Linked DNA regions of Homo sapiens: region 2 is linked to region 1. Evidence: fine-mapped expression QTL. A gene starts in region 1. The other region holds a variant in brackets. All regions are shown on one strand. Distances are from middle to middle.

Region 1 (16,172 bases):
CCTGTAATCCAGGCACTTTGGGAGGCCAAGGCAGGCGGATCACCTGAGGTCAGAAGTTTAAGACCTTGGATCACCTGAGGTTGGGAGTTCAAGACCAGCCTGGCCAACATGACGAAACCCTATTAAAAATACAAAAATTAATGGCCAGGCGCAGCAGCTCACGCCTGTAATCCCAGCACTCTGGGAGGCCGAAGCGGGTGGATCATGAGGTCAGGCGTTCAAGACCAGCCTGGCCAACATAGTGAAACCCCGTCTCTACTAAAAATACAAAAAATTAGATGGGTGTGGTGGCAGGCACCTGTAATCCCAGCTACTCAGGAGGCTGAGGCAGGAGAATTGCTTGAACCTGGGAGGCGGCGGTTGCAGCAAGCTGAGATCGTGCTACTGCACTCCAGCCCAGGCAACAGTGCAAGACTTCGTCTTAAAAAAAAAAAAATACAAAAATTAGCTAGGCGTGGTGGCACAAACCTGTAATCCCAGCTACTTGGGAGGCTGAGGCATGAGAATCACTTGAGCCCGGGAGGCACAGGTTGCAGTGAGCCAAGATCGCACCACTGCACTCCAGCCTGGGTGACAGAGTGAGACTTCATCTCAAAAAAAAAAAAAAAAAACGCATAAAAATAAAAACACAAAATCAGCCGGGCGTAGGAGCATGCACCTATAATCCCAGTTACTCAGGAGGCTGAGGCACAAGACTCACTTGAACCCGAGAGGCAGAGGTTGTAATAAGCCAAGATTGCACGACTGCTCCTCCAGCCTGGGTGACAGAGCAAGACTCCATCTAAAAATTAAAAATAATAATAATAATAATAAAAACTACAAAGAGTTCATGAATCCACAGATACCACAAGCACCACTGGTAAGCTGAATACATAATGTGGCTTGAACATACACTGTTATTTTTGAAATATATGTAAATGTTACACAGAAAAAAATGTAAACTTCGTAAAAGTCACTGACTTTTTAGTCCCTTTTAGTCAGCAATTGTTTTTCAAGAGCATAACGAATATCATGTAGGAGAATCCCATGAAAGTTTCAATGTTAAAAAAAAGGGGGAGATGATCTTATACTCGGAAATACAAGGAGTCACAGCTGAAACAAAAATACCTGTAGGTGGGGTGCAGTAGCTCACAACTGTAATCCCAATGCCTCGGCTGAGGTGGGAGGATAACTTGAGCTCAGGAGTTTGAAACCAGCCTAGGCAATGTAGCAAGACCCTCCGGAAAGAAAAAGAAAGAAAGAAAGAAAAAGAGAAACAGAAGAGAAGGAAAAGGAGGGAAAGGAAGGAAAAGGAGGGAAAGGGAGGAAAAGGAGGGAAAGGAAGGAAAGGAGGGAAAGGAAGGAAAAGAAAGACAAAGAAAGAAAAAAGAAGAGAAGAGAAAACAAAAGAAGAGAAGGAAGGAAAGAGAGAGACAGAAAGAAAGGAGGGAAGGAGGGAGGGAAGGAGGGAGAGAGGGAAGGAAGGAAGGGAGGGAGGGAAAGGAAGGAAGAGCAAGCGAGTTGTGGAAGAATTAGAAGAAACTATTCTAAAACTCATATGCACCAAAAAAGAGCCCAAACAGCCAAAACAATCCTAAGCAAAAAGAACAAAGCTGTAGGCGTCACACTACCCAACTTCAAATTATACTAGAAGGCTATAGTAACCAAAACAGCATGGTACTGGTACAAAAACAGACACACGGACCAATGGAACAGGTTAGAGAACCCAGAAATAAAGCCGCATATTTACATTTACAACCATCTGATCTTCAACAAAGTCCAATAACAAGCAATGGGGAAAGGATTCCCTATTTAATAAATGATGCTGGGATAGCTGGCTAACCATATGCAGAAGATTGAAACTTGACCCCTCCCTTTCACCATATACAAAAATCAACTCAAGATGGATTAAAGACTTAAATGTAATACCTAAAACTATAAAACCCTAGAAGAAAACCTAGGAAATACCACTCCAGACATAGGCCCTGGCAAAGATTTCATGATGAAGACTCCAAAAGCAACGGCAACAAAAACAAAAATTGACAAGTGAGACCTAATTAAACTAAAGAGCTCTGCACAGCAAAAAAAAAAAAAAAAACTATCAATGGAGTAAATAGACAACCTACAGCCAGGCATGGTGAGGCTCGTGCTTGTAATCCCAGCACTTTGGGAAACCCAGGCAGGAAGATCACTTGAGCCCAAGAGTTCAAGATGAGCCTGGGCAACATAGAGAGACCCTGTCTCCACAAAAAGTAAAAAAAATTAACCAGGCATGCTGGCACACATCTCTAATTTCAGTTGCTTGGGAGGCTGACGTGAGAGGATTACTTGAGCCTGGGAGGTCAAGTCTGCAATGAGCTATAATTGTGCCACTGCACTCCAGCCTGGGTGACAGAGTGAGACCCTGTCTCAAAAAAAAAAACCCAAAACAAAAAACAGACTACCTACAGAATGCAAGAAAATATTTGCAAACTATGCATCTGATAAAGTCTAATATCCAGAATCTATAAGGAACTTAAATAAACAAGCAAAAAACAACCCCATTAAAAAATAGGCCAAGGACATGAACAGATACTTCTTCTCAAAAGCAGATAGGCACAGTGGCTCACATCTATAATCTCAGCACTTTGGGAGGCCAAGGCGCGTGGATCACTTGAGGTCAGGAGTTCAAGACCAGCCTGGCCAACATGGTGAAACATTGTCTCTATTAAAAATACAAAACTTAGGCTGGGCGCGGTGGCTCACGCCTGTAATCCCAGCACTTTGGGAGGCCGAGGCAGGCGGATCACGAGGTCAGGAGATCCAGACCACGGTGAAACCCTGTCTCTACTAAAAAAAAATACAAAAAATTAGCCGGGTGTGGTGGTGGACACCTGCAGCCCCAGCTACTCGGGAGGCTGAGGCAGGAGAATGGTGTGAACCCAGGAGACGGAGCTTGCAGTGAGCCAAGATCACGCCACTGCACTCCAGCCTGAGCAACAGAGCAAGACTCCGTCTCAAAAAAAAAAAAGAAAAGAAAAATACAAAACTTAGCTGGGCATGGTGGTGCACACCTGTAATCCCAGCTACTCTGGAGGCTCAGCTGGGAGCATCACTTGAACCTGGGAGGCAGAGGTTGCAGTGAGCCGAGATCGAGCCACTGCACTCCACCCTGGGCAACAGAGTAAGACTCCATCTCAAAAAAAAAAAAAAGGAAAAAGAGACATGCACATGGCCAATAAGCATATGAAGAAATGCTCAACAACACTAATCATTAGAGAAACGCAAATCAAAACCACAATGAGATACCATCTCACTCCAGTCAGAATGACTATTCTTAAAGTCAGGCCAGGTGCAGTAGCTCACATCTGTAATCCCAACAGTTCGGGAGGCCAAGGCAGGAAGACTGCTTGAGCCCAAAAGTTCAAGACCAGCCTGGGCAACATGGCACAACCCCACACTACAAAAAATATAAAAATTAGCTGGGCATGGTGGTGCACACCTGTAGCCCCAGTTACTCGGGAGACTGAAGTGGGAGAATTGATTGACACCAGGTCGAGGCTGCAGTGAGCCATGATTGCACCACTGCACTCCAGCCTGGGTGACAGAGTGAGATTCTGTCTCAAAAAAATGAATAAATAGGCCGGGTACGGCAGCTCATGCCTATAATCCCAGCACTTTGGGAGGCCGAGGCAGGCAGACCAAGAGGTCAAGAGATCAAGATAATCTTGGCCAACATGGTGAAACCCCGTCTCTACTAAAAATACACAAATTAGCTGGGCATGGTGGTGCATGCCTGTAGTCCCAGCTACTTAGGAGGCTGAAGCAGAACCGCTTGAACCCAGGAGGCGGAGGTTGCAGCGAGCCTAGATTGCACCACTGCACTCCAGCCTGGTGACAGAGTAAGAATCCGTCTTAAATAAATAAATAAATAAATAAAAATAAACAAATAAAAATAATTTAAGAAGTCAAAAAAGTGGTGATGCCCACCTGTACTCCCAGCTACTTAGGAAGCTGAGGTGAGAGGATCACTTAAGCCCAGGAAGTTGAGGTTGCAGTGAGTCATGATCATGCCACTGCACTGTAAGCCTAGGTGACAGAGTGAGACCCTGTCTCAAAAAAAAAAAAAAAAAAAGGCAAAAAATAACAGACGCTGGCAAGTTGGTGGAGAAAAGGGGATGCTTATACACTCCTGGTGGGAATGTAAATTAGTTAAGCCACTGTGGAAAGCAGTTTGGAGATTTTTCAAAGAACTTGAAACAGAACTATGATGCGACCTAGCAATCCCATTACTGTGTATATACCCAAAGGAATATAAATCCTACTATTAAGACACATGCACATATATGTTCATCACAGCACTATTCATGATAGCAAAGATGTAGAATCAACCTAGGCACCTATCAATGGTGAACTGGATCAAGAAAATGTGGTATATATCATCCACCATGGAATACTACACAGCAATGACAAAGAACAAAAATCATGTCATTTGCAGCAACATGGATGGAGCTGGAGGCCAATATCCCAAGTGAATTAACACAGGGACAGAAAAGCAAACACTGAATATTCTTGCGTATAAGTGGGAGCTAAACCTTGAGTACACATGGACACAAAAAAGGAAACAGTAGACATGGGGCCTACTTGAGGGTAGAGGGTGACAGGAGGGTGAGGATCAAAACTATCTATCTGGTAGTATGCTCACTATCTGGGTGACAAAATAATTTGTACACCAAACCCCCAACACATACACTTTACCCATGTAACAAACCTGCACATGTAACCCCAAATCTAAAATAAAAGTTGGAAGGGAAAAAAACTCAAACAAAATATGTGATTGGATAATATCTGAAATGTTCTTTAAACTCTAAACAAAAGCATAAGGGACTCAAAAAAGGGAGAGAGGGAGGGAGGGAAGAAAGGAATGAAGGAAGGAGGGAGGGAGGGAGGGAAGAAAGGAAGGAAGGAAGGGAGGGAGGGAGGGAGGGAGGGCTGTGGATTTGCCCCAAGCTGTCAGCTGATCATCTTGGCAGCAGAAAGGTTGGGACACTCCAGGGGTTCCCAGTGATGAGCTGAGGTCAGAGATGCATGCAGATGGGGAGGACCCCTGGCACAAAGCAGGCACTCCACAATTGTTTGAAAAACACAAAACAATTAAGTCAGAATCAGAAATGCTCTGCTGACGACACAGTCCCAAACAAATACTGGCTGCCACTATTATCATTAAGCAGGGTCTTGAAGCGTAAGTAACATCTGGAAGCTAACATGACGGAAGCTAACAGAAGTAGACAGGAGGCATTCATTTCAACTTAAAAAACCTGCAGGATGGCCGGGCACGGTGACTCACACCTGTAATCCCAGAATTTTGGGAGGCTGAGGCAGGTGGATCACCTGAGGTCAGGAGTTCAAGACCAGCCCAGCCAATGTGGTGAAACCCCGTCTCTACTAAAAATACGAAAATTAGCTGGGCATGGTGGTGGGTGCCTGTAGTCCCAGCTACTCAGGAGGCTGAGGCAGAAGAATGGCTTGAGCCTGGGAGGTGGAGGCTGCAGTGAGCCAAGATGGCATCATTGCACTCCAGCCTGGGCAACAGACTGAGACTCTGTCTCAAAAAAAAAAAAAAAAAAAAAAAAAAAAAAAAAAACCCCCAAAGCTGCAGGAGCCAAAGTAGTGTGGTGTCCCCACCTGATGTGTTCAGACAGGGTAGAGCACTGGTTCTCAGCAAGAGGCGATTTTGCCCCCCAACCCCTACAGGACACTTAGCAATGTCTGGAGACATTTTTGGTTGTCATAACTAGGGCTAGGGTGCTAACAGTATCTAGTGGGTAGAAGCCAGGGATGCTGCTACACGTCCTGCAATACACAGGACAGCCTCCATAGCAAGGAATTATCATGCTCAAAATGTCACTCAAGCCAAGATGGAGAAACTCTGTGGTAGAGTGGTCATCTCTTACCATTCTTCTACAAGACTGCTCTAACTCCAATACTCCAGTTGTACCAGCCTCCTCACTGTTCCTATCACACTCACAGCACCATTCCTTCTCAGAGCCTTTGTACCTGCTGTTCTCCCTGCTTAAACAACCATCCTCCAATAGTTGCAAAGCTCCCACCCTCTTTTTTCAGATCTCTTTTCAAATATCACCTTATCAACAATGTCTTCTCAAAATATCCTAATAGAAGATAAGTCACCATCCTTTATCTTATTTTTCTCATAGTATTTAACATCACCCAAACATGGTTTACTTGTTTTTTTGGCTTTTTATTTTTTTTTTTTTTTTGAGATGGAGTCTTGCTCTGTTGCCCAGGCAGGAAGGGGCAGTGGCATCAGCTCACTGGAACCTCCACCTCCCAGGTTCAAGCGATTTTCCTGCCTCAGCTTCCCGAGTAGCTGGGATTACAGGTGCACGCCACCACACCTGGCTAATTTTTGTATTTTTAGTAGAGGCAGGGTTTCTGCATGTCGGCCAGGCTGGTCTCAGACTCCTGGCCTCAAGAGATCCGCCCACCTCGGCCTCCCAAAGTGCTGGAATTACAGGCGTGAGCCATCGCACCGGGCCTTATCTGCTTTTCTCTCAAAATGAAAGAACCAAGGGATCCATGAGGGAATTTGTCGATTTTGTTCACTGCTATATCCCCAGTGCCCAGAAGTATGCCACATACTCCAAGTGCCTAATAAACATTTATTGAATGAATGAATAAAACAATGACTGGACATTAGGGAGGAGAACTAACGGGATTTAGAAGAGAGGCAGGACAGAAAAATAGTGCAGTAGTTAAGATGCATGAACTTCAGAATCACGAAGAGGTTCCAGTTTCAGCACCACCACTTGCTAGATGTGTGATTTGGGGGCACAGAACAGCCTCTCTGTGGCTCAGTCTTTTTATTAGTAAAATGAGGATAACGATAATAAAAGAAGGTACCTCCTGGACATCGATGGAAGCACCTGCCACTGAGCCTGACATGCAATCAGGGCCGAACAAATGTTAAGCTCTTGGTGGCATTGGTTTAGTGACCAGCAGAAGGGGGAGGAGTAGGTTTAGATAGCACTGAGGTTTCCTGTACAAGGACTAGAAGCTGGGGAAGAAGCCATTACTCAGGAAAGAGTAGGTATGAGGACTAAGGCAAGGGCGGTACTTCAGCTGCAGAGGTGGCCTAGGACAGGGGTGCACTGCGTGGATTCCGGGGCCAGACCCTGACTGTAAATCCCCACTCCTTCATTCACAAGCTACGTGGCCCTGCGCAAATTACTTGCAGCCCTCTGTGCTTCAGTGCTCTCATCTTTCAACTGGGGATAACAATACCTACCTCTTACGGTTATTGTGATGCTCAGTGATTTAGTTTACCTAAACCACCCAGAACAACGCGTGGCATATAGCAAGTGCTGTATGAAAAACTCTCCGTGCCTTCATTCTCTTACAAAATTAAAATGACCTTCACCTCAGTCTGAAACCCCACAGGCTTCAGCAGAGTAACCCCCAAAGATTTTCAGAGCTCCACCCTTCCTGGCCCCGAAGCAGAGATCTGCTGAGCAAATCCAACCGACAAGCGCCAGGCACAGGTAATGCACTATCGACCCTATGATTCCGGACGAATTCCCAACCCCATCCAATAGCCCACGCTCTACTCAAGAGACGAGAGCTGCCATTCCCGCTCCCTCCTCCCGCAAAACTGTAGAACCCGCCGGTAGAGGCCGGGAGCGCCCCCGAGGAGGGGCCGGGAAGAGGCGGGGCCCGGTTGCGACTCGCCGCCCGGGAGCCTGGGAGACCCAGAGGCTGCGCCCGCGCCCCCTCACCAGTAGCAGCTGCTGTAGACGCAGGCGTCCCGCGGGGGGCTGGCCGGCTGGTAGTGGACAGCAGCGGGGCCATTACCTTCCATGGCCGGCTAGCTGGGCCAGGGCCCGGGCCGGAGGAAGACCGACTGGACCAGACGTAGGAAAGGGCGGGCTTGTAGTGGCCCGCGTGGGTTCCCGGCGTGGGGTGGGCGGAGCCCGGGGGGAGAGGGCCGGGGCAGTTTCCGGGTGGTGGGGCCAGTAGCGCGGTGGGCGGGGCCAGGGCGGGACTAGCAGCACGAGTTCCCGGCGCGGGAAGCCCGGGACGAAGTAGGCGGAGCTCGGGGCAAGCGGCGCCAGTTCCTGGGAGGGTGGAGCCCAAGCGAAGTGGGCGGGTCCGGGGTGGGGTGAGTGGCGCGAACTCCCGGTGGGCGGAGCCCGGGACGAGGAGGACAGCGCGCTTCCGGGTAGGCGGAGCCCGGCTGGTGGGTGGGGCCCGGGATGGGGCGGGACTGGAGGACCGGGCTCTGGTGGGCGGAGTCAGGGGCGGGGCCCCGGTGAGCTTTGGGAGAAGAGGGGTCTCTGGCGGCGGCTTGGGGAGGAGCTAGGTTTGGGCTTGGAGTTGGGCCCTGAATGGCGCTTTGCTGTGAATCTCCGCGGGGAGGCTCTTCCAACCAGGGGCTGAGCTTCTGCGCTGTGGAGAAGCCAGGTGAGACACTGAAATAACAGAGGTTTGGGTGTGAAAATCCACGCTTCTGCACTCAGCCTGGAGTCTGCGGGAGCCCAGAGAAGAGGGGAGTGGAGGTTAATTCCAATATGACCGCATCGAGGACGCTTTCCGAAAGGGATAGCACCCCAAATCTCACTCTATTGTAACTTAATCTTTTAAATTGGAAGGCCTGTAGCTATTGGCTCGAAAAGATATATTAATTCCCTGATACAGTAAATTTGAAAAAAAAAAGTTTAAAGAGTCCATATGGTATCCTTTTTGTGTTAATCATATATTTTGTTCAATTACTGGCAGTCTGGAAGAAAAGACACCATATTGTTAAAATAGTGTTTAGGGCCGGGTGCGGTGGCTCACGCCTGTAATCCCAGCACTTTGGGAGACCGAGGCGGGTGGATCACGAGGTCAGGGGTTCGAGACGAGCCTGGCCAACATGGTGAAACTCCGTCTCTACTAAAAATACAAAAATTAGTTGGGCGTGGAGGCGCGCGCCTGTAATCCCAGATACTCGGGAGGCTGAGGCAAGAGAATCGCCTGAACCCGGGAGGCGGAGGTTGCAGTGAGCCGAGATGGTGCCATTGCACTCCAGCCTGGGCAACAGGGTGAGACTCCGTCTCAAAAAAAAAAAATAGTGTTTATCTCTGGTGAATGAATGATATTAATATCAGGGACTTTCAGTTTCAAGGTCTTTACACTTTACAGTCTTCTGAATTGTTTATATTTGCAATGAGCATAGCTAGCTAATCAGGGTACTTCCCATTATAAAAACTGAGATGTTTACATTGATTTTAGCCATCCACAGTTGGATTCTCCAATCTCTTCAGTCTCAAAGCTGATAAATCCTAAAGACTTGGAGCACAGTTCCTGTGTCAATTACCAATTTTATTGCCTCTCAGCTCCTAATACAAACTTCCACATAGCCTCTATGCTATATAACAACTCTGGTAAACATTTCTCCTTTAAAGTGAGTGGGAAACCCTATAAGCTAGAAGGGATTGGGGCCCTATCTTTAGCCTCCTCAAACAAAACAATTATCAGCCAATAATTTTGTATCCAGCGAAACTAAGCATCATATATTAAGGAAAGATACAGTCTTTTTCAGACAAATGGTGAGAGAATTTGCCACTACCAAGCCACCACTACAGGAACTGCTAAAAGGAGTTCTAAATCTTGAAACAAATCCTGGAAACACATCAAAACAGAACCTCGTTAAAGCATAAATCACACAGGACCTATACAACAAAAATACAATTTAAAAAACAACAAAAAAAAACAAGGTACACAGGCAACAAAGCACGATGAATGGAATGGTACCTCACAAGTCAATCCTAACATTGAATGTAAATGGTCTAAATGCTCCATTTAAAGTGAGTGGGACAGGTGTAGTGGTGAGAACATCCTTGTGGAGTCTGCCCCAGCCCCAGACTCAGAACATGGTCCCTTCCTAACCTTGCAGGTTTAGCCTGGCAATAACCTTTCTTCAGCCTCTTGACACAAAAACCAGGGTCCTCCCTAACCCTACCTTCTATACGGTAAGGTACTGAATAGAGTTTCCTTATGTGTTATCGTTATGCCTTTATCATAGTTAATAATAATTTTTTGGTGGGGGACAGGGTCTCCCTCTGTCACCCAGGCTGGAGTGCAGTGGTGCAATCATAGCTCACTACAGCCTCAAACTCCTGGGCTCAAGTGATCCTCCAGCCTCAGCCTCCTGAGTAGCTGAGACTGCAGGCACGCACCACCGTGCGCAGCTAACATAATTAATAGTTCTTTACATTTAACTTCCCTTGCTTGACCTACTGTGTAGTTTCTTATCCTGATTGGGCACAAACTACTTACTATAGGACTTTGAAGCTAGGCTGGGTAGGTTCTACAACTTGCCAGTTGGGTCACCTTGGGCAAAGTTACTTCACTCTTCTGTGTCTCACTTTCCTCATCTGTAAAATGAAGTTAAAGATAATGCTACTACCTCATAGGGTCATTATGAGGATTAGTTGAGTTTATGTATATAAAGTACTTAGAATAGTTGGTAGCATATAATATAAATGTTAGCAACTATGATTTTTTGTTAAAAAAATCTGATTTCATTATTTCCCGCATACCCTATACTTTTTTTTTTTTTTTTTTTTTTTTTTTTGAGATAAGAGTCTCACTCTGTCGCCCAGGCTGGAGTGCTGTGGTGCAATCTTGACTCACTGCAACCTCCGCCCCCACCACCCCAGCTAAATTGTGTATTTTCTTGTGGAGGTGAGGTTTCACCATGTTGGCCAGGCTGGTCTCAAATTCCTGACCTCAAGTGATCTGCCCGCCTCGGCCACCCTCCCCGCCGCCATACTCTTGTCACTGAGTGTCTTATTCTTCCTTTGATACCCCAAGCCTTTGCACAAGATGTATGTACACTCTGTCTGATGCATTCTTTCACATGCCTTATTTGCAGCTTTTCCCAGGAAGAGTTTATTGTTGGCTTCCATCTTCCTGGAGCTTTTTTTCCTGTTTTGTCACAACTTTTATTCATATGTCTTGAAAAGCAGTAGCATGCTCAGCAACTCAATCTGTCTCTACCTCTGCCATGAGCTCTTCCAGGGCATGGGTCTTGCCCTGAGAGGTAGAATAGTATAAATAGTGCTGTAGTCAGAAACACACTCAAATCTTATCTTGGCTACTTACTACCCTGAGTGACCTTGGATAAGTAACACTAGGATTTCTGAGCGTCAGTTTCTTTGCAAAATGAGGATAATAATAGTAGAGTGCTTATCTAATGGGTGCTGCAGTGAAAATTAAATAAACTAATCTCTGCAAAACACTTAGCATAGTGCCTGGCAGAACATAGGTACTGTCAAAAATAAACATAGCCGTTGACCATCAGTCAAAGCGATGAAAACAGATTTTATTCAGCAACTATTGACAGTAGGGGAAAGAGCTGAGCTCCATTCCAATTGTGCAGAGGTAATTTGGGCATTTGGAAAGAAGAATGAGGAAGCAGGGAGGAGTTGGGGGGGGGGGGGCGCTCATTAGAGCCAGGGAAGTGAAAATTACAAAGGGTTGGTCAGTGTAAATACCATTAGGCCAGTCGTGTCTGCTAGCTGGCAGTTATCTAAGTTAGGATTCTATCCTCCCACAGAGACTGGGAGTCAGAGGCCCTATCCTTCCTGATGATTACATTTCAAAGGAATGGCTCTCTAAGTCCTTGAGAAGGACTTCTGAGTTGTAAGTAATACATATTTACAATTCTAAGCCCTTTTAGTAAATGCTCTAAGAAAAGGAGGTCAGGGGCCTATCATCAGGTACTGGCAACAACAAATAGTAAATTTTCCTGGGAGCTTTGAGCTTTCTTAAGCAGGCATTTTAATGGGGGGTTTGGGGGAGAAGGCTGACATAGCCTTATACTGCTAGAAGCCATGCTAGAGTTTGGTCAAGTCTGTTAGTGCAGGGATTTGGAACCAAGTTGTGCTGAGAGTTCTGCAGTACTCAGTACCCTACGTAATAAACAACTACATAGGCCAGGTGTAGTGGCTCACCCCTGTAATCCTAGAACTTTGGGAGACCAAGGCGGGAGGATCGCTTGAGGTCAGTTTGAGACCAACCTAAGCAACACAGCAAGACCCTGTCTCTACAAAAAAAAAATTTTTTTTAATTAGCCAGGCATGGTGGTATCTGTAGTCCTAGGCACCCAGGAGGCTGAAGCAAAAGAATTGCTTGAGCCCAGGAGTTTGAGGCTGCAGTGAACTGTGATTACGCCACTGCACTCCAGCCTGGGCAACAGAGTGAGACCCTCATCTCTTAAAAAATAAATAAAATAACTTAAAAAAACTACATAATTTTGCAGTTATGATTATTATCACATAGCTCTGAGCAGGGTGTAAGCATTGTAGTTGGCATAAATCCTTGTTGAATTGATATTTTTATTAATTAAAATACAGGTGACATTGCTGTAACAAAGAAATCCAAAAATATTAGTGACTTAAATGAGATACAAATGCATCTCTCATTCCACAGCCTGAGCATATACATTCTAGAGCTGATATAGTGTCTCTGCAATATCTGTTACCCAGGCTCCTGATGTCTTATTGGGGGCCATATCTAGAGTGATGCCCTAGTTCGCGTGGCTGAAGATGGCTTGCCACCCTACCTGCTGATTGCATTCTGACTGGTAAGACCAGGGAAAAGGAGTAGTGGGAGGTTCAAGGACAAAATCTGCAGGTTATGCACATCACTCTGCTCACATTCCACTGACCAAAAGATGCTCACAGGATCACATCCAGGTGTAAAGGAGATCAGGAAACATACAGTTTATTCTGAGCAGTGCAGGTATTATTTGAGTGTCTCAAGCAAGAAGGGGAGAATGCATACTGAGAGATAGCCAGCAGTTTCTAATCTGCCATATTGTGCTTTTTTTTTTCTGTTTCTAAACTTTCTATTATAAGCAGGAATTACTTTTTATTTGTTTATTTATTTATTTATTTTTGCAGTTGCAAGATTTAATAGATTGAAATAGAGTGAAAACAGAGCTCCCATACAAAGGGAGGGGACCCAAAGGGGGTTGCCGTTGCCAGCTCAAATGCCTGGGTTTATATCCCGATCCTTGTCCCTCCCGCTGTGCTCTCAGGCAATAGATTGGCTATTTCTTTACCTCCTATTTTTTCCTAATTAGCATTTTAGTGAGCTCTCTGATTGGTTGGGTTTGAGCTAAGTTGCAAGCCCCGTGTTTAAAGGTGGATGCGGTCACCTTCCCAGCTAGGCTTACGGATTCTTAGTCGGCCTAGGAAATCCAGCTAGTCCTGTCTCTCAGTCCGCCCTCTCATCAGGAAAACCCAAGTGCTGTTGGGGAGGTTCGCCGACGACTGCTCTAACTGCTTCTTGCTGAATTGGGGCGTAGTAGGGGTTGTGCAGTTGAAATTTCCTGGGGAGGGGTGCCTTCGATGTCATTAACATCGGAGCATGGGCTAGCAGGCCAGTCCAGGGGTCCGCGGTAGATCTTAGTCATAGACTGCATCTGGGGCTGCATTTGAAGAATGATTTGTAGTTTTGCAGCTTTGATTCTGGAAGAGACAAACGCTTTGGAGGTCCCTTCAGGGTCTCCAAAATGTTACCAGGGGTCCTTGTTCACAAAGTTTCCAAGATGGTGGCAAGCCGCTTCCAAGATGGTGGCAAGCCTCCTGTTCTCTGACCTGGGGTTCTTGGCCTCATGGATTCCAAGGAATGGAATCTTGGGCCATGCGGTGAGTGTTATAGCTCCATTAGAAGCCGTGGGTCACGGAAGAGAACCGTGGAACCCAGTGACTAGTGTTCAGCTCGATTAGGATGAACCCGGGCACTTAGCCATGCAGGAACAATGGCAAGCCTTTAGCCCGATCCAGAGCGGCAATGGGCGCCTCGCTGGATCAGGAGCACAGCGGACACCCTGCCGGATCTGGAGGGATAGAAGTCAGTGGCGGGTCTGCCACGGCAGCAAACAGCAGTGGTGGACGGCGAGCGAAAGCTCAGCTTGAGCCGTAACAAGCATGGTCCAGAAGAGTGCAGTAGCAAGATTTAATAGAGTGAAATAGAGTGAAAACAGAGCTCCCATGCAAAGGGAGGGGACCCAAAGGGGGTTGCCCAGGAATTACTTTTTAGATTGAAAAAAATAGATCATAAAAAACATATAGGCTGGGCATGGTGGCTCACACCTGTAATCCCACACTTTGGGAGGCCAAGGCGGGTGGATCACTTGACGTCAGGAGTGTGAGACCAGCCTGACCAACATGGAGAAACCCCTGTCTCTACTAAAAATACAAAATTAGCCAGGTGTGATGGCGCATGCCCGTAATCCCAGCTACTCGGGAGGCTGAGGCAGGAGAATCGCTTGAACCTGGGAGGTGGAGGTTGCCGTGAGCTGAGAGTACACCATTGCACTCCAGCCTGGGCAACAAGAGCAAAATTCTGCTAATAAATAAATAAATAAATAAATAATATGATCCTACAATAGAAACTATAAAAACGGATATGGTTTCAGAAGAGTAGGAGATGGTTAGAACCAGATTCTGACCTACAAACTCCAATGATCTGGTTAAGGAAGAAATACGAAATGCTACTCAAAGAAACCTGTGTCCAGTGAAATTAAGATATTAATGGGCAGGTGTTTAGAAGAGAGATCAATAACAGAGGAAATTATAAGAAAGGCCACAGACATGTAAAAGGAGATCCAGGGAATCCACAGCACACAGTATATTGAGCTTTAATAACAAAAGGTTTTTTTTAAAGCTTTTTTTATTGGAAGGATGTGCTTTTAATGCTTTTTTTTTTTTTTTTTCCGAGATGGAGTCTCACTCTTGTCACACCCAGGCTGGAGTCTAGTGGTGCAATCTCGGCTCACTGCAACCTCCACCTCCCAGGTTCAAGCAGTTCTCCTGCCTCAGCCTCCCGAGTAGCTGGGACTACAGATGTGTGCCACGACACCCGGCTAATTTTTGTATTTTTAGTACAAAACTAAACCAACCCCAGGTGATCCACCTGCCTCAGCCTCCCAAAGTGCTGGGATTACAGACGCGAGCCCCTGTGCCCAGCCAAGGATTATTATTTAAAAACGAAAACTAGAATGGGTGTAGTAGCTCAAGCTTGTAATCCCAGCACTTTGGGAGACTGAGGCAGAAGGATCACCTGAGCCCAGGCGATCAAAGCTGTAGTGAGGTATGATTCAGCCACGGCACTCCAGCCTGTGTGACAGAGTGAGACCCTGTCTCAAAAGAAAAACAAATTGGCAAAACAAAATCAAAACCCTGACATTCCCACTGTTATTCTAATTTGCATTTATCTGATTTGCATTATGCTATTTTCCCAAGTTAAAGCGATCATTTCAATACAAAGCAATTTGTGCTATGGCAGCAATGTACTATGTGAACTCAGAGGGTAGAGTCCTTATCACTGGGGGTGGGAAGTTGGCTGGGTTGAAACACAATATGAGACCCATCTGAATTATATTGGGGTGGGAAGCAGGTCCATACTTGTGGTATTAGACTCACTGCTGTGTACCATACCTTACATGGGAAAACTGAGAAATTAAACTATGTATGTTCGGGAGAGGTCAATAGAGAGGTAAGGCCTGAAAACCACATTATAAGAATATATCAGCCGGGGCCGTGGCTCATACCTGTAACCCCAGCACTTTGAGGGGCAGAGGCGAGTGGATCACCTGAGGTCAGGAGTTAGATGAGTCTGGCCAACACAGCAAAACCCCGTCTCTACTAAAAATACAACAATTAGCTAGGCGTGGTGGCACGCGCCTGTAGTCCCAGCTACTGAGGAGGCTGAGCCACGAGAATCGCTTGAACTTGGGAGGCGGAGGTTGCAGTGAGCTGAGATGGCGCCACTGCACTACAGCCTGGGTGATAGAGCGAGACTCCGTCTCAAAAAAAAAAAAAAAGAATATATCTTCCAGGCCGGGCACGGTGGCTCACGCCTGTAATCCCAACACTTTGGGAGGCCGAGGCGAGTGAATCACCTGAGGTCAGGAGTTTGAGACCAGCCTGGCCAACATGGTGAAACCCTGTCTCTACTAAAAATACAAAAAGTAGCCGGGCATGGTGGCAGGCGCCTGTAATCTCAGCTACTTGGGAGGCTGAGGCAGGAGAATAGCTTGAACCCCAGAGGCGGAGGGTTCAGTGAGCCGAGAACGTGCCATTGCACTCCAGCCTGGGCGACAAGAGTGAAACTCTGCCTCAAAAAGGAAAGGAAAGGGAGGG
Region 2 (16,172 bases), 39 kb before region 1:
TGTTCTCACACTGCTAATAAACACATACCTGAGACAGGATAATTTATAAAGGAAAGAGGTTTAATGGATTCACAGTTCCACATGGCTAGGGAGGCCTCACAATCATGGTGGAAGGTGAAGGAAAAGCAAAGTCACGTCTTAACATGGCGGCAGGCAAGACAGCATGTGCGGGGGAGTCCCCTTTATAAAACCATCAGATCTCGTGAGATGTATTCACTATCATGAGAACAGCACAGGAAAGACATGCCCCCATGATTCAATTACCTCCCACCAGGTCCCTCCCACGACAAGTAGGAATTATGGCAGCTACAATTCAAGATGAGATTTGGGTGGGGACACAACCAAATATCACCATCCCAGCTCTAGAGGTCTCTGGGGATTGGCTGAGTAGGGATTGCATCACAGTTCAACACCTCCCTGTGTCTCATCCTGCTTCCTTTCTTCCCCCTTAGCTGCTGAGCCCCAAACACTCCCCCAATAAACTGCCTCCATACAAATGTCCATCAAGAGCCTTTTACGAGGAACCTAACCTGTGACACTTGATGAATTCTGTATACCACGTCAATCTCACACTCACTTTGGATTCTGATATCTATTTAATTGGTGCCTGAGTCAAAACTGAGAAATGGGAAGTCCCACTTAACATCATGGTATACTTATAATAGGAATAAACAATATCAATCAAAGAGAAACTTAATAAAGCATGGCAAATCAACTTTATGAGTTATTCAATAGACGGTAAAAAGTATAAGCATTTCACAGCAAAATATTCCAGAAGAATAACTGTGATCTAATATTAAGAGAACACAAAATTTATTTTGGATTGAAACCAAAAAAAGCAATAAAGAACATCTTGGGGATATCTGGAGAAGTTTGAATACAGACCACATATTAGACATCATTGTTGCATCAATGTTAAGTTTCTTAGACGTGATAATAATATCATCATAAAGCAGAAGAATATCTTTCTTAGGAAATCCTTCTGAAGTATTTATAGGTGAAGTCTCATGATATCTGCAACTTGCTTTCAAACTGTTCAAACAGAAAAATGTGTTTTTCAGTGAGAAAGAGAGAAAGAAAAAGTGTTCTTCCCTACAAAGAGCAGGAATAGTCACTTCCTGGAGCCACCGTATTCCCATTCCTGTACTAAATGCTCCCCCTGGTGTACCAAGAGAGCAGAATGCATTCATTAAGATGTATTTCAAAATGCCCTTCACAGTGGGAAAGCAAAGCCCCAAGACTTTTACAGAACGTGATCAAAGTGTCAGACTTTTTAATTTATCTTCTCCCAAGTCCTAACCAACAGTGTAGTTCCTGTTCCCCAGTTTGCTCTCTATGGTGTCAAAATCTTGAGTTTCAATTCTGGTGAATTGGGGGCATGCTTGGGGAAGGAGTGAAGAGAAGGGTACCTGTAGCCATGCCCATGAATGCATGAGCTCTGGAGTCAAACAGTCAAATGAATCCCACTTTGGCCACTTACTAGCTGGGGGACCTCTTTGAGTGTCCGCTTCGTAATCTGTGAAGTGGGAATGATAACAGGACTCATATCAAAGAGGATTAAATGAGATAACACAGACCAAGACTTAGCATGGGGCTTGGCACATGGTCTAATTAGAATTCAATAAGTAGTAATCAATTATTATCATCTCCTTCTTTTTGAGGAGGCTTCTAAGAGAGTGCCTTAGAAGTCCTAGTGCCTTGTGTACTTCAAAAACTACTGCCCTAGAGTATCTGAGTTGTAGACTTAACTCTGCTGAGAAAATCCACCCAATGTTCTTTCTACAAAGTTATAATAACTAATCTCATATTAAAAACAAAACACAGGCCCAGCACGGTGGCTCATGCCTGTAATCCCAACACTTTGGGAAGCTGAGGCAGGCAGATCACAAGAGGTCAGGAGTTCAAGACCAACCTGGAGAGCATGATGAAACCCTTTCTATACTAAAAATACAAAAAAATTAGCCAGGCGTGGTGGCATGCACCTGTAGTCCCAGCTACTCGGGAGGCTAAGGCATGAGAATCGCTTGAACCTGGGAGGAGGAGGTTGTAGTGAGCTGAGATCACGCCACTGCACTCCAGCCTGGGTGACACAGCGAGACTGTCTTAAAAAAAATTTTTAAAAAGAAAACCTCCCTTTTAGGGATACATGCACTGAAAAATATTTTTTCACTAGATTTCCCTGTCTCACACATTATTTCCAAGAAAAATGATTTTTTAAGTTCTGTAATTTTCTGCTCACCCGTGGGCCTCCTGGGCTTTTGCCTGTGACACTCTAGCCATAGCCTCCTCCAAAGCAAGTCACTCTTGTGCCCCATGTCAAGAAGGAGCACAAGAGTCTCTCTCCTCTGCCCCAATTTCATGCTCCCATCTCCTCTTCCCCTCACATACTTCCTCTTGCTCTATCTCCTTTCCTTTCAATAAATCCTTATTAAGCATCTACTCGCTGAAAGACACAGTTCCTGCTGTTCTTGAATATACAAAGTTATCAAGGTCATAGTTCTGCTTTTTATGAGTTTATGGTCTAATAGGCCAGACTCCTGCAGGAAAGCCCAACATGTGAAAGGACCTAGGGTGTCATTATAGCAGATACTAAGCATGGTAGAGCAGAAGACAACACCAGGCTGGGGCTAAGGAAAGCTGGGCTAAAGTCCTAGATTTGTTACATACTGGATATGTGAGCTTGAGCAAGTGAAATAACCTCTCGGGGTGTAGATATTATCATCTGGAAACTGCATTGGGTTGAGTTTCCCCAATGCATGCCTTGAGACAGGAAATTCGGTAGAAGTTGTTTATTTGGTAGGTGATCCTAGGAAACACCAGTAGGGAGTGGGGACGTGAGTCAAGGAACAAGGAAGCCAGCCAGGTCACTGAGCAGGTGCCAAGAGGATAGGCTGTTGTGGGCAGCTGGGGACCAAGGCTGCTGGGGACCCTGGGAGATGGTGCAGCGTCTAGCCCAGAGTTGTACCCTCCAAGGAGCAAGAAAGCTAAGCCACTTATCCACCTACTCCCACCCATCAGGGCTGAAGGCTGCTCCAGAATGTATTAACTCCATGCTTCCCGCCTGCCCAAGCCAGGACCAAGTGTGTTAGGTCACTTAGGCAAGGAATAGTAAGGAGGGTGCCTATGGAAAGCAGGGATTGACAGCATCCATACACCACCTGCAAACACTGTACGGAGGAATACATGAAAGAAAGATTCCAAAAGCTCAGAGCAGAGTACCTGACAGAAGTGTGAAATGTGCCTGAATGTAGAAGTCAGACGGCACGCCTCCTCAACTCATCTCTGGATGCTGGCGCATGTTATTATTCTCTCCTTGCTTCCTTTGCAACGTTCAGCCAATACAAACTCCACTACGTCGTCAAACCAAACCTACCAAGTCCATTCTTCCCTCATTTCACTCCCAACCCCCTGCCACTGCATGCAGGTCTCCCCCAGCTGGTCTCCACTGACCCTTCTGCCAGCCCAAACCTGTCCACCACAGCCAAAGGACACTGCAAAACGCTGGTCTTCTCACATCTGATGTTGAAGAGCTTACCCTGACCGCTTTTTTCCTACAAGATTCAGCCCTACATCACATCTTGTGGTTCAAGGCTGTCCAGTAGTAAAGACATCCCGTGTGCCACAGACAGCCCACTCCATCTTTTCCCCTTGGCTCTCACCTCTGCAATATGCCCCTCCTTAGACCCAAGACCAGCACAAGAAGCAATGCCCTCATTTTGCCTTTGGATTTATTCCAGTGTGACTGAATCTCCACTTTATGGTGTAGTGATTCTGGAGTCAGGCCCAGGTTCAAATCACATTCCTTTACATATTAACTGTGCTACTTTGGGCAAGTTGCCCACTCCCATTTCTTCATCTGAAAAATAAGGATAATAATCATTCCTACTTCATAAGGTTATTGTAAGGACTAATAATTTCATGCCCAATAAGTAGTTTTGAGCAGTGCCTGGCACAAAATGAGTACTCCATACATATTATCTGTCATTAGGGGTTCTCTCAAGGTACTATTTAAGATTTTTTTTTTAAAGAAATCAAGAGATATCTGCTGTGAAATAAAAATCACGTACATTGGGCTGGGCGCAGTGGCTCATGCCTGTAATCCCAGCCCTTTGGGGGGCCGAGGCAGGCGGATTACCTGAGGTTGGGAGTTCGAGACCAGACTGATCAACATGGAGAAACCCCGTCTCCACTAAAAATACAAAATTACCCAGGCATGGTGGCGCATTCCTGTAATCCCAGCTACTTGGGAGGCTGAGGCAGGAGAATCGCTTGAACCAGGAGGCGGAGGTTGCGGTGAGCTGAGATCGTGCCATTGCACTCCAGCCTGGGCAATGAGTGAAACTCCATCTCAAAAAAAAAAAAAAAAAAAAGAATGATGTATATTGGTCTCCACCCCAAGTTCCTGGCACAGAGCTTCGAAAACCCTTGTGATTTCCTGAGCAATAGGGGTTCTAGGAGAAACTTTTGTTGGAATTATTGGGTCTCTGCCCCAGGTACCTGAGACAGAGCTCTTAAACCTTTGATTTCCTGAGTAATAGGAACACCTGACTTAGAGTTCCTGAATCCCTTGGAATTTTTCTGAGGAACATCTTTTTTTCTAATAAGGGGACTCTTGGTGAGCTCCTGGACAGGGGCTGCTCACTGGAAAGACTAAGCAATGATTAGAAGCTTGGAGCTTTCAGCCCCATCCTCCATTCTTTAGAGATGGGGAAGGGCTAGAGACTGAATTAATCTTCCATCATGCCTACCTGATGAAGCCGAAGTACTGAACTATGGGGTTCAGAGAGCTTCCGGATAGCAGAACACGTCCATGTGCTGGGAGGGTGGTGCACCCCAACTCCATGGGGACAGAAGCTCCTGCACTCAGGACCCTTCCACACCTGATCTCTTCATCTGGCTGTTCATCTACATCTTTTTTTTTTTTTGAGACAGGATCTCACTCTGTCACCTAGGCTGGAGTGCAGTGGCATAATCACGGCTCACTGCAGCCTCGACGTCCTGGGCTCAAACAGATCCTCCCACCTCCTGAGTAGCTGAGACTACAGGCACACACCACCACATCTGGCTAATTTTTTCATTTTATTTTATTTATTTGAGACGGAGTCTCACTCTGTTGCCAGGCTGGAGTGCAGTGGCACGATCTCGGCTCACTGCAACCTCCGCCCCCTGGGTTCAAGCAATTCTTTTGCCTCAGCCTCCGGAGTAACTGGGACTGCAGGCATGCCACCATGCCCAGTTAATTTTTTTGTATTTTTAATAGAGGTGGCTCACGCGTGTAATCCCAGCACTTTGGGAGGCCGAGGCGGGTGGATCACGAGGTCAGGAGATCGAGACCATCCTAGCTATCACGGTGAAACCCCATCTCTACTAAAAATACAAAAAATTAGCCGGGCGTGCTGGCGGGCGCCTGTAGTCCCAGCTACTCGGGAGGCTGAGGCAGGAGAATGGTGTGACCCAGGAGGCGGAGCTTGCAGTGAGCCGAGATCGCGCCGTTGCACTCCAGCCTGGGCAACAGAACGAGACTCCGATTCAAAAAAAAAAAAAGAAAGAAAGTACCAACTATTTTTCCTGTCTCACACATCTGCTAAAAAGGTTTTCTCTCTTCGCATGAGCTCATGGGCTTTCTGAGCATTTCTGTACCCAGATCGCAGCTTAATGCCATATATGCCACAGAAACACACCCCTGACCAGCACACAGACAGCTACTTAGCTGTTTAATGGTTTCACCTAGACTCACAATTTCAAGGTCTCACTTTCACTCACAGCAGCCCAATCAAAGGGTTAGAATTGGTAAACAAACAGGCTCGGAGCGGTATAACAGAAAAATAATTTCTTTTGGCTTTTCTTGCTCTTGGTCAATGAAACTTTGATCAGAGAGAACATCTGAGGCTATACTTGTTTCAAGTTGTGTTTGTTTGAAAAAAAAAAAAAAGTTAGCCAGGCACAGTGGCTCATGCCTGTAGTCCCAGCACTTTGGGAGGCCAAGGTGGGAGGATTGCTTGAGTCCAGGAGTTCCAGACCAGCCTGGGCAACATAGCAAGACCTTGTCTCTACAAAAAAAAAAAAAAAAACAGTGAGGGGAAGTGTGATTTATTTGTTTTTTTTTTTTATTTTAAATCTTTTTTTTTTTTTTTTTTGAGACAGAGTCTTGCTCTGTAGCCCACGTTGGAGTGCAGTGGCATGATCTTGGCTCACTGCAACCTCCACCTCCCGGGTTCAAGCGATTTTCCTGTCTCAGCCTCCCGAGTAGCTGTGACTACAGGCACATGACACCACGCCCAGCTAAATTTTGTGTTTTTAGCAGAGATGCAGTTTCACCATATTGGTCAGGCTGGTCTTGAACTCCTGACCTCAGGTGATCCATCCGCCTCGGCCTCCCAAAGTGCTGGGATTACAGGCGTGAGCCACTGCGCCCAGTCAATTCTACCCTTAATAAGTAATATATTCACAGGGCTTACAACACTTAAAAACACAAAAGGGTACACAATGAAGTTTCCCTCCCTCCCGTGACCCTAGCCACCCAGTTCTCTTCTCAGAAGCAACCAATATTACCAATTTGGTACTGGATACTGGATATTCCTATAGATATTCTGTACAAATATAAGCAAATACACGTTTTTATCTTTTAGTACAGATTTCCACTTGCTCTTTAAATTTAATTGTATTACATATATAATATAGGTTTATTACATATTTAATATAGGTTTAATTTGAAAGTAAAGGCAAAAACTGCAATTACTTTTGCACCAACTAATACATACAAAAGAATATTTATATCATGTTTAAGATTTTTTTTTTAATTTTGGCTGGGTGCAGTGGCTTATGCCTGTAATCCTAGCACTTTGGGAGGCCGAGGCAGGCGGATCACTTGAAGTCAGGAGTTTCAGACCAGCCTCGTCAACATGGGGAAACCCCGTCTCTACTAAAAATACAAAAATTAGCTGGGCATGGTGGTTCACAGTTGTAATCCCAGCTACTTGGTAGGCTGAGGCAGGAGAATTGCTTGAACCAGGGAGGCAGAGGTTGCGGTGAGCCGAGATTGTGCCACTGTACTCCAGCCTAGGTGACAGAGGGAGACTCTGTCTCAAAAATATATATATCTATATGTATAGATAGATTTTTTAAAAAATTTTAAGCCATCACTCAGCTTAAGAAACATAAACATTTCATCAGCCCCCAGTTGATAAGCCTACAGATGGTTTCCAACTTCCTGTTGTTATGCCCACAGCTACAATGAGTTTCCTCGTGTATCCACCATTTTATATGCGTGCAGTATATATCTGTAAGATAAATTCCTAGATGACGAATTCCTAAGTCAAAGGGGATGGTCACAGGTCATTTCTATAGATAAATATCTGGATTGTCCTCCACAGAAATTGAAAAAAATTGATTCGTTTGTTTCTGAAAGTTTCCAAGATGCCTAGAAGTCTAACAGGTGTAAAAATCATTTAAGTGACAGAAGACAGGAAAGCAAAAGGATCTCATTTAAGTGACAGTTCTTGTTAAAAATATATAAAGCATAACTATCTCTTGTTTCCCCTGAGGCAATCATGTAAAACAACTCCTGACGGTGCCTTCGATACTTGGGGAAGTGCCCAAACATATACTTTATTCTGGTGTAATTCCTGTAAGGATTAATATTGCTCAGAACTGACAGGAATTATTAGTTCCCGCAATGAGGTAATTACAGAATCAAGTTCAGCCACACTTTTTTGACTTTGTTTACTTTAAAATGCCTGCTGCCTTAGATATTTAAGATGTGCATCTTGGGTTCCAAGTTTCGAAACAAAAATCCCTGCAGAGGCGGAGGCTGCAGTGAGCCAAGATCGTGCACACCAGCCTGAGCGACAGAGCAAGACTCTGTCTCAAAATAACAACAACAACAAAAATCCTTGCAATATATAAGTTCTCTCAATATTCAAAAGCATAAGGAACAAGC[T/C]GGATGATCATTAACAAAGGGTTTATCCAGAAATACAACAACCGTCAGATTATAGGAACCTCTGCAATGCAATGTCATGACCACTGGGGTTTGGCATTGGAGATGCAAGAACCTAAATATCACCCTTTTTGGGGAGGGCCACTAACTTGAGCCCTGTCATAAGGATCAGACCTAAAAAGATGCTCTTAAAATCCAGAGATTGGAGAAAGTCAATATTCCCCCACCTGACCAGATGCCTAAATCAAGAGTATTAGCACATTTTACAACCAAACATGAATGGGCTGAGATACAGTTCCTGACCTCTCTTGCCACTTTCTGTAATTAGCCACACCAGCCACCACTTTGGAAAGGTGCTAAAGTTTACCCACTTACTAAAAACAGCCTAATTACACTTAAAATTAGCAATATACCTAAATCCATATTTCATGATACATGGTCCCAGAACACCTGCAGTAGACTTCCGGGTGGGGAAGTGGGAGTGAGTCTGGCTATTAAAATGCTGATTTCGGCTGGGCGCGGTGGCTCATGCCTGTAATCTCAGCACTTTAGGAGGCCAAGGAGGGTGGATTGCCTGAGCTCAGGGGTTCCAGACCAGCCTGGGCAACATGGTGAAACGCTGTTTCTACTAAAATTACAAAAATTAGCCAGGCGTGGTGGCACACGCCTGTAGTCTCAGCTACTCAGGAAGCTGAGGCAGAGAATCGCTTGAACCCAGGAGGCGACGGTTGTAATGAGCCAAGATTGCACCACTGCACTCCAGCCAGGCGAGAGTGGGAGACTCCGTCTCAAAAAAAAAAAAAAAAAAAAAAATTTCTGGGCATGGGGTTTGAGGATATTGGTAACACAAGTGGTTGCTCACTACAGGTCCTCGCTGGAAACAGCACTAAAGAACCAGGATGTGGACTGACTCCTCTGTGCAAGTCACCGACAGTGCCCATGTTTATACTGTAGGCCCACGAACCAAGCAGCCATGGCGGCAGGGACGGAGGTGTGCATGGACTCAATCACCATCTTTCCCTCACCAGAGCTGACTCAGCTGCCTTCTCTGCTGAAGCCCTAAGTGGAGACCAAGGCTGAGCTATGGCATCTTAATTATGAGGCATCCCTTCCAAAAGGGAAGACAGAGCTTTGCGTGTGGCAGTATCATAGCCAATGAGGTTTATCCGAGGCGTGATTATTGCTAATTGAAAACAAAATGGAAGACAGGTGACTTTTCCCCTCCCTTGAATAAACACTTCTTCCACACATGGATTTCCTTTTCCTAATCACCATGCTTCTGCCAGCAACTTACCAACTCAATGAATGCCTCATCCACTGCCACAACGCCAGACACCCACATTGCTTCTGATCACAAATCCATTCACAGCAAAAGAAATGGGTCCATATGCTGGTACCCCCCAGATGCTCTGATCTTACCGTGGTCCCCAGGGGTAGGTGATCTTCTTGATGGTAGAATGAATGGCCCATTGGAGACTGAGCTACAGTATCCGCTGGCAGACACCACCTGGTGACACTGGGGTTCTGTCCCATAAGATGTAGTAGATGCTCTGAACCAGTGACAGTACTGCCAGAGTTCACAGGTCTGGGCACCAAGGCTAGAAGTGAGTGCATCTCCGACTGCTACACCTGAGGTCAGGCGTTTGAGACCAGCCCGACCAACATGGAGAAACCCCGTCTTTACTAAAAATACAAAAAAATTAGCCAGGCATAGTGGCGCATGCCTGTAATCCCAGCTACTCGGGAGGCTGGGGCAGGAGAATTGCTTGAACCTGGGAGGTGGAGTTGTGGTGAGCTGAGATCGCACCATTGCACTCCAGCCTGGGCAACCACAGTGAAACTCCCTCTCAAAAAAAACAAAACAAAACAAAACAAAAAACAAAATTGCATCCATTTATTATCAAGGGAGCAATTATAGCAGAACTTCACTATGAATGACTGTTTCTCTAGATGTTTGTTTCCCGTCTCCATCACTTTGAATCAAATGCCTTTTGGATTCACGTAGCAAGCAATTTCTGTTCTCTGCCGCTGAGACCTGACTGGGATGCTTACTAAACCAGAACCACTCAGGGAGGTTCTGGACATTTGCCTTTTTAACAAGTTTGACATTTATTGATAAAGTTTATTTGCAGTAACTACAGGGTAAGTTACTTCAGGTGGACAGCTGTGAAGGACACTTCATCCCGACCATGGGGAAGCTCAGTGACCCACTCCTGCCCTACAACAGACAGCACCTTGCTAGTGACCCATTATCTGATTACAGAATGTGGGCATGAACTTGGAACTGGGTGAACTGGGAATTGGATGGCAGCCAGGCCCTGGAGTGGGAATGCCTAGATTCAAATCCTGTCTCCACCACTCACTAGCTATGTGGCTTTCTATAAGTCACTTTACTTTACTGTGCCTACGTTTCCTAATTTGTAACATGAGGAGAATAATGGTATCTACCTTATATTGTTGTTTTGAGGATTGAGTTCATACACATGAAGAGCTTAGATGAGCTATCTGGGGCCAGGCACGATGACTCACACCTGTAATCCCAGCACTTTGGGAGGCCAAAGCAGGCAGATCACCTGAGGTCAGGAATTCGAGAGCAGCCTGGCCAACATGGTGAACCCGTCTCTACTAAAAATATAAAATTAGCCAGGCATGGTGGCAGGTGTCTATAGTCCCAGCTACTCAGGAGGCTGAGGCAGGAAAATCACTTGAACCTGAGAGGCAGAGGTTGCAGTGAGCTGAGATCGTGCCACTGCACTCCAGCCTAGGTGACAAGAGCAAAACTCTGTTCCAAAAAAGAAAAAAAAAAAAAGCAACAAAACACTTCACCTTTCGGTGTATGAAATATTCTCTTCCCTGCCAACACACACACAATCTCATTTGAGCCTCAAAATAATTCTTAGGTGAGGCAAGGAAGGCCCAGAGAGGTTAAGTGACTTTCCCAAGGTCACACAGTATGTCACTAGCAAATGCAAAACTGTAACGGGGGCCAAGGACTTGAACTTATTTTTCCTGTATTCCAGGGGCAGGGACAAGATCTCCTCAGCATCTGGCCCCAAGGAGGTCAAACATAGCTCTGCATCCTGTGGGCCTTGAGTGGGAACTGATTCAACCGTCACTTACGGCTGCAGAAACAGCGTGTGCCAGAACGGTGTGACTGTATTAACATCTTGCCCCACAATTTCCTTCCAATGTTCTTCCCAGAAATTGCTCTAAAACTCCAGGTCCCCATGGAAACCTCAGGAGAGATTGCCTATTGACTCTAAGTGAAGTTCTGCTATGAGTGCTCCCTTGATAATAAATGGATGCAATTTTGTTTTTTGTTTTGTTTTGTTTTGTTTTTTTTGAGAGGGAGTTTCGCTCTGGTTGCCCAGGCTGGAGTGCAATGGTGCGATCTCCACCTCCCGGGTTCAAGCAATTCTCCTGCCTCAGCCTCCCGAGTAGCTGGGATTACAGGCATGCGCCACTATGCCTGGCTATTTTTTTTTTTGTATTTTTAGTAAAGACGGGGTTTCTCCATGTTGGTCGGGCTGGTCTCAAATGCCTGACCTCAGGTGATCCGCCCGCCTAGGCCTCCCAAAGTGTTGGGATTACAGGCATGAGCCACCGTGCCCAGCCTTTTAAAATTTTATTTTTGTGTGTGGAGACCGAGTCTTGCTGTCACCCAGGCTGGAGTGCAATGGCTCGATCTTAGCTCACTGCAACCTCTGCCTCCTGGGTTCAAGAGATCCTCCTGCCTCAGCCTCCCAAGTAGCTGGGATTACAGGCATCTGCCATCATGCCCAGCTAATTTTCATATTTTTAGTAGAGACAGGGTTTCATCATGTTGGCCAGGCTGGTCTTGAACTCCTGACCTTAAGTGATCCACCGGCGTTGGCCTCCCAAAGTGCTAGGATTACAGGTGTGAGCCACTGTGCCTGACCAATAAATGGATGTTATTAAAAGCCTGGCCTGAACAGATACCTGCTGTAAAGCTCAGGGCCAAAGCCACATTCTCCCTGGACTGCCAGGGTAAAAGACATAGTTCATTCTCTGGTGCTAGGCTGAGTGGTCAGCTTGGAGCAAAGGGGAAAAGTATACTGTGAGCTCCTGCTCTCAATATCAGACACTAGACATGGTGCTTTCCATATCTGCGTTTGTGACAAGAGGCTGGAATGAGGTGCCTGCCAAGAATGTGAGAGAACTAATTAAATAAATCCATGGTGTTCTTTGCTCTCTGCAAAAGTCATTCATAACGTGCTTTTCACACCAAAAGGTGGAAGAGTAGGGCTTGGAGTTAAGGCTGAAGGGACTGCAGACAAAACCGGTTTGAAAAAGGACAAGATCATCTAAAAAAGGAATAGAATCTAGTCAACGGGAATAATTCAAAGCACAAGACTTTAGCAGCAGTTTTCTAGCATTATCCTGAGATCCAGTGGAGTGGCGGACTTGATGTTCCAGACCCCTTTGGTGACAGGAGTTGTTCCTTTATTGAATGCTTGAGGAATATTTGTTGAGTGCTTACTATAAGGTATCAGATACCAAGACACTGTATTACAGTGGAGAATAAGGCAGGGAGGACTCACAGTCCAATGGAGGGAGATAGAAAACAGACTTTTAGACCAGGTGTGGTGGCTCGTGCCTGTAATCCCAGCATTTTGGGAGGCTGAAGTGGGCGGACCAATTGAAGTCAAGAGTTCGAGACCAGACTGGCCAACATGATGAAACTCTGTCTCTAATAAAAATACAAAAATTAGCCAGGTGTGGTGGCACATGCCTATAATCCCAGCTACTTGGGAGGCTGAGGCAGGAGAATCCCTTGAATCCAGGAGGCGGAGGCTGCAGTTAGTCAAGATCACGCCACTGCACCCCAGCCTGGGTGACCGAGTGAGACTCCATCTTAATTTAAAAAAAAGGAAAACAGACTTTTAAACAAATAAGTGTGCAAGATCATTTCAGTTAGTGATAACTGCTATGAAGAAAAAAGGGTACTGTCATGTTGACTGGGGCAGTCAGCTCTAGATACGTCACCAGGGAAGAATTACCAGACTCGGAGCTCAGACCTCAATGTCAGGCAGTGTCAGCCAACAGAAGATAAGGGAGAAAAAAAGGGTCAGATCAGGGTAAACAGAATGTGAGGTCCCTGAGGAAGGAATGAGCTTGTCCTGCTCACCAAAAGAAACCTAACGGGGGAAGCAGGACAGGGAATGGGCCAGCAGTAGCAGAGCTGAAATCACAGAGACAGCCGTAATCCAGACCACACAGGGCCTGAGAGCCAGGGTAGAACAGTATATTTAGCTTAAGGACATGCTGAGGCCATTGCAAAGTGGTGGTGGTTTGTTGTTGTTTGAAAACGGGAATGAGATAGTCTGGTTTTTAACAGATCACTCTGTATGAAGGAGACATGAAGCAGAAAGAAAAAATAAAGATCACTTTGGCTGCTTTGTGAAGAAAACACTGCAAAGTGGGAAGAGGTCAAGGAAAAAAAGCAAAGAGTTATTGGAGTGGTGCCTGAGGCTTCCCCATGACCTGGATGAAATATCCCTGAAAGTTATCCAGCTTTCTTTCCTCTCTGTCAATGCTGAAGAAGGGCTGCATGAACCAAGGGATGGATCGAGTCAAAGGGAGCGTCCTACAGAGTGAGAACTGAGGAGTGTTTGCCCTGCTTCAGAGACAGTGGCCCTGGAGGACAGACAGGTTTTGATGTCATGAGAGGTCTCCTTGGAGGGGCAGAAATGGGTAATTCGTTCTTCAAAATGGAAGAATCAGCTGACAACCTGGCAAACAGCAGTCTCCCCTGCTGACCCACATCCTCCTGCAGTACCACCCCCTTTCTCTGCCCCCTTCCCAAACCACTCTACTTCCTTCCTCCTGTTCCCTCCTGAACCTACTGAAATTAGGCTGTCATCCCCATCACTCCACTGAAATTGCCCACAGACCTCCACAGTGCCAAAACCAACGGTCATCCCAGTCCTCAACTTACTCAACTGATCAGCAACATCTGACAGAGCTGATCCCTCTCCCCTTCTAATACCACTTTCTCCTTTGGGCATCCTTGTTTTCTCCTCCTTCCTCCATGACCATTCCATCTGTCTTCCCATCTCCTAAGCCCTAAATAAAAGCTCCCTAGGCTAGGTCCCTGGACCTTTCCTCTATCCACACACATTCTCTCAATGATATCATAGAGGCCTGTATCTTTAAATGTCATCTATTAACAGATGTCTCCCAATTTGATATTCCTATCCTACATCTCTCCACTTGACTCTGGGACCCCTTTATCCAGCATATATATATATATATATATATATGCACACACACACACACACACATATATATATACACACACATATATACATATGGAGAGATAGAGAGAGAGAGAGAGAGAGAGAGAGAGAGAGAAAGCAGCGAGCCAGAGTCTCACTCTGTCGCCCAGGCTGGAGTGCAGTGATGTGATCTCAGGCTCACTACAACCTCCGCCTACCACACCCGGCTACCAACTCCTATTTGACAGCTCCTGTTAGACATCCAACTGGCACCTCAAATTTAACATGCCCCCAGTAAAACTCCTGATCTTCCTCCCCAAAATTACTCCACCCACAATCTTCCCCAACTCAGTAAATAGCAACCAATCTTCCACACATTGTAGAAGTTCATTGTCTGTCTTCTCCACAAGAATGTAATATCCATGAGCGCAGGACTCACTGCTGAATCACCAGGGCAGTGATACAGCAACAGTAGAGGTCTTGAACTCCTGGCCTCAAGTGATCTGCCCACTTCAGCCTCCCAAAGTGCTGGGATTATAGGCATGAGCCACCACACGCAGCCCTCCAGCTCTTTTAAATAAGCATCCTCCATGAAGAATTTCTGCAAATCATCAAGCTGTTAATTGCTATATGCTGAATGTACACAAGCCCCTACCAGTCTGAGAGTCCTGTGTAAATCATTTTCTCTTTCAAATCCTGATGAAAAAGGGACTCAAAGAGAATCCAAACCACAGCCTGCAGGCTTCCTCATGCTTCTGCTTCACTACTGAGCCAGCCACTGGTCATGGTGTGTACTGCTGTCAACCACCAAAATACCAGACTCAGTCAGAACACTGCTGTCCACTGTTCTACGGAAAATCAGCAGCTACCTCCAAGGCTCCCACAGAGCCACATGGGGCCCCCAGTGACACAGTTCTTTCTTTCCTTCCCAGGAGACAGGGCTTTCAAGAGAGTAAGAGAGTACAGGTAAGGGTGCACCGTGGCACATCTCTCATGGCACCTGCCATCAAGGAACACTCTAATGTATAATCATCTAGTCTGGTCCTCTCAGCCAGATGTCATCTTCACTTACATTGATTTTCTCTCAGGGACCTGTTCATGTTTTTCTCTCCTCTAGCAAAGACATCTTTGAGGACCTCTAGCCCACGGGACAAGCCTATAAACGTCTGAACCCTAAATGAGAACACAGACCATTTGGCTTCTTTCCCACAAGGCTCCTGAACCTCATGCAAAACAACAGGACTGGATAGACGTCTGTGTTCAGGGTTTGTGAACATTCTGGGAAGGGCAGTAATTCCACAAAAACTGTGGGACACTAAGGGGGCAGTCTGCGCAAGGACACAGAGGCTTACACCACAAATTCTTCTTATTCTTTTTCGACGGAGTCTCACTCTTGTCGCCCAGGCTGGAGTGCAGTGGTGCAATCTTGGCTCACTGCAACCTCCACCTCCCGGGTTCAAGCAATATCTCAAGTGATACTCAAGCCTCCCGAGTAACTGGGATTACAGGCATGCGCCACCATACCTGGCTAATTTTTGTATTTTGGGGAGAGATGGGGTTTCACCCTGTTGGCCAGGCTGGTCTCGAACTCCTGACCTCAAGTGATCCACCCGCCTTGGCCTTCCAAAGTGCTGGGATTACAGGCGTGAGCCACCGTACCCGGCCTGGAACACCACAAATTCTTATTTCTGACCCAGCTAAAAATATCGTTACATGCTTGAATGGGCACTGAATTATTTAGGGAGGACTAAATGGCCAAATCAAAACTCACCAAGAATTCTGTGACTTAAAAAATACATAAGTTTGTCTCCTATGAAAGAGTTCCACAATATACTATTTAGGCAGGCATGCAACTCGGCTCCATAGAGTTATCAGGAATCCAGGCTGATGGTGGCTCTTCTGCCTTTGATAAGTAGCTTCCGAGGTCACTCCAGTCATCACCATTTCATCTGGTAAGAAAGTAGGCAAAGGTGTGAAGGAGTGGGCACGAGTTTCAC

What was found. PIP is the estimated chance that this variant, and not a neighbour inherited with it, causes the effect.
Region 2: its variant is the best candidate, but not a certain one, in a credible set for the expression of NTAQ1 in whole blood (INTERVAL, PIP 0.72).

What each region holds. Positions count from the first base shown.
Region 1 is chr8:123,408,512-123,424,683 of GRCh38, reverse strand. It overlaps NTAQ1 (N-terminal glutamine amidase 1), which reads right to left and starts at 7,910. Exons shown (of 6, transcript NM_018024.3): 1 at 7,752-7,910. The coding sequence starts at 7,834. It also overlaps a transcript of ATAD2 not described here. RefSeq lists silencers at 7,172-7,221, 7,542-7,741, 7,852-8,331, 10,249-10,449 and enhancers at 7,144-7,738, 13,363-13,863, 13,864-14,364.
Region 2 is chr8:123,447,999-123,464,170 of GRCh38, reverse strand. It overlaps a transcript of NTAQ1 not described here and the pseudogene LOC124902105. Among named protein-coding and RNA genes, the nearest start is that of NTAQ1, 39 kb to the right of the region's middle. The variant T/C (reference allele first, on the strand shown) is at 7,940.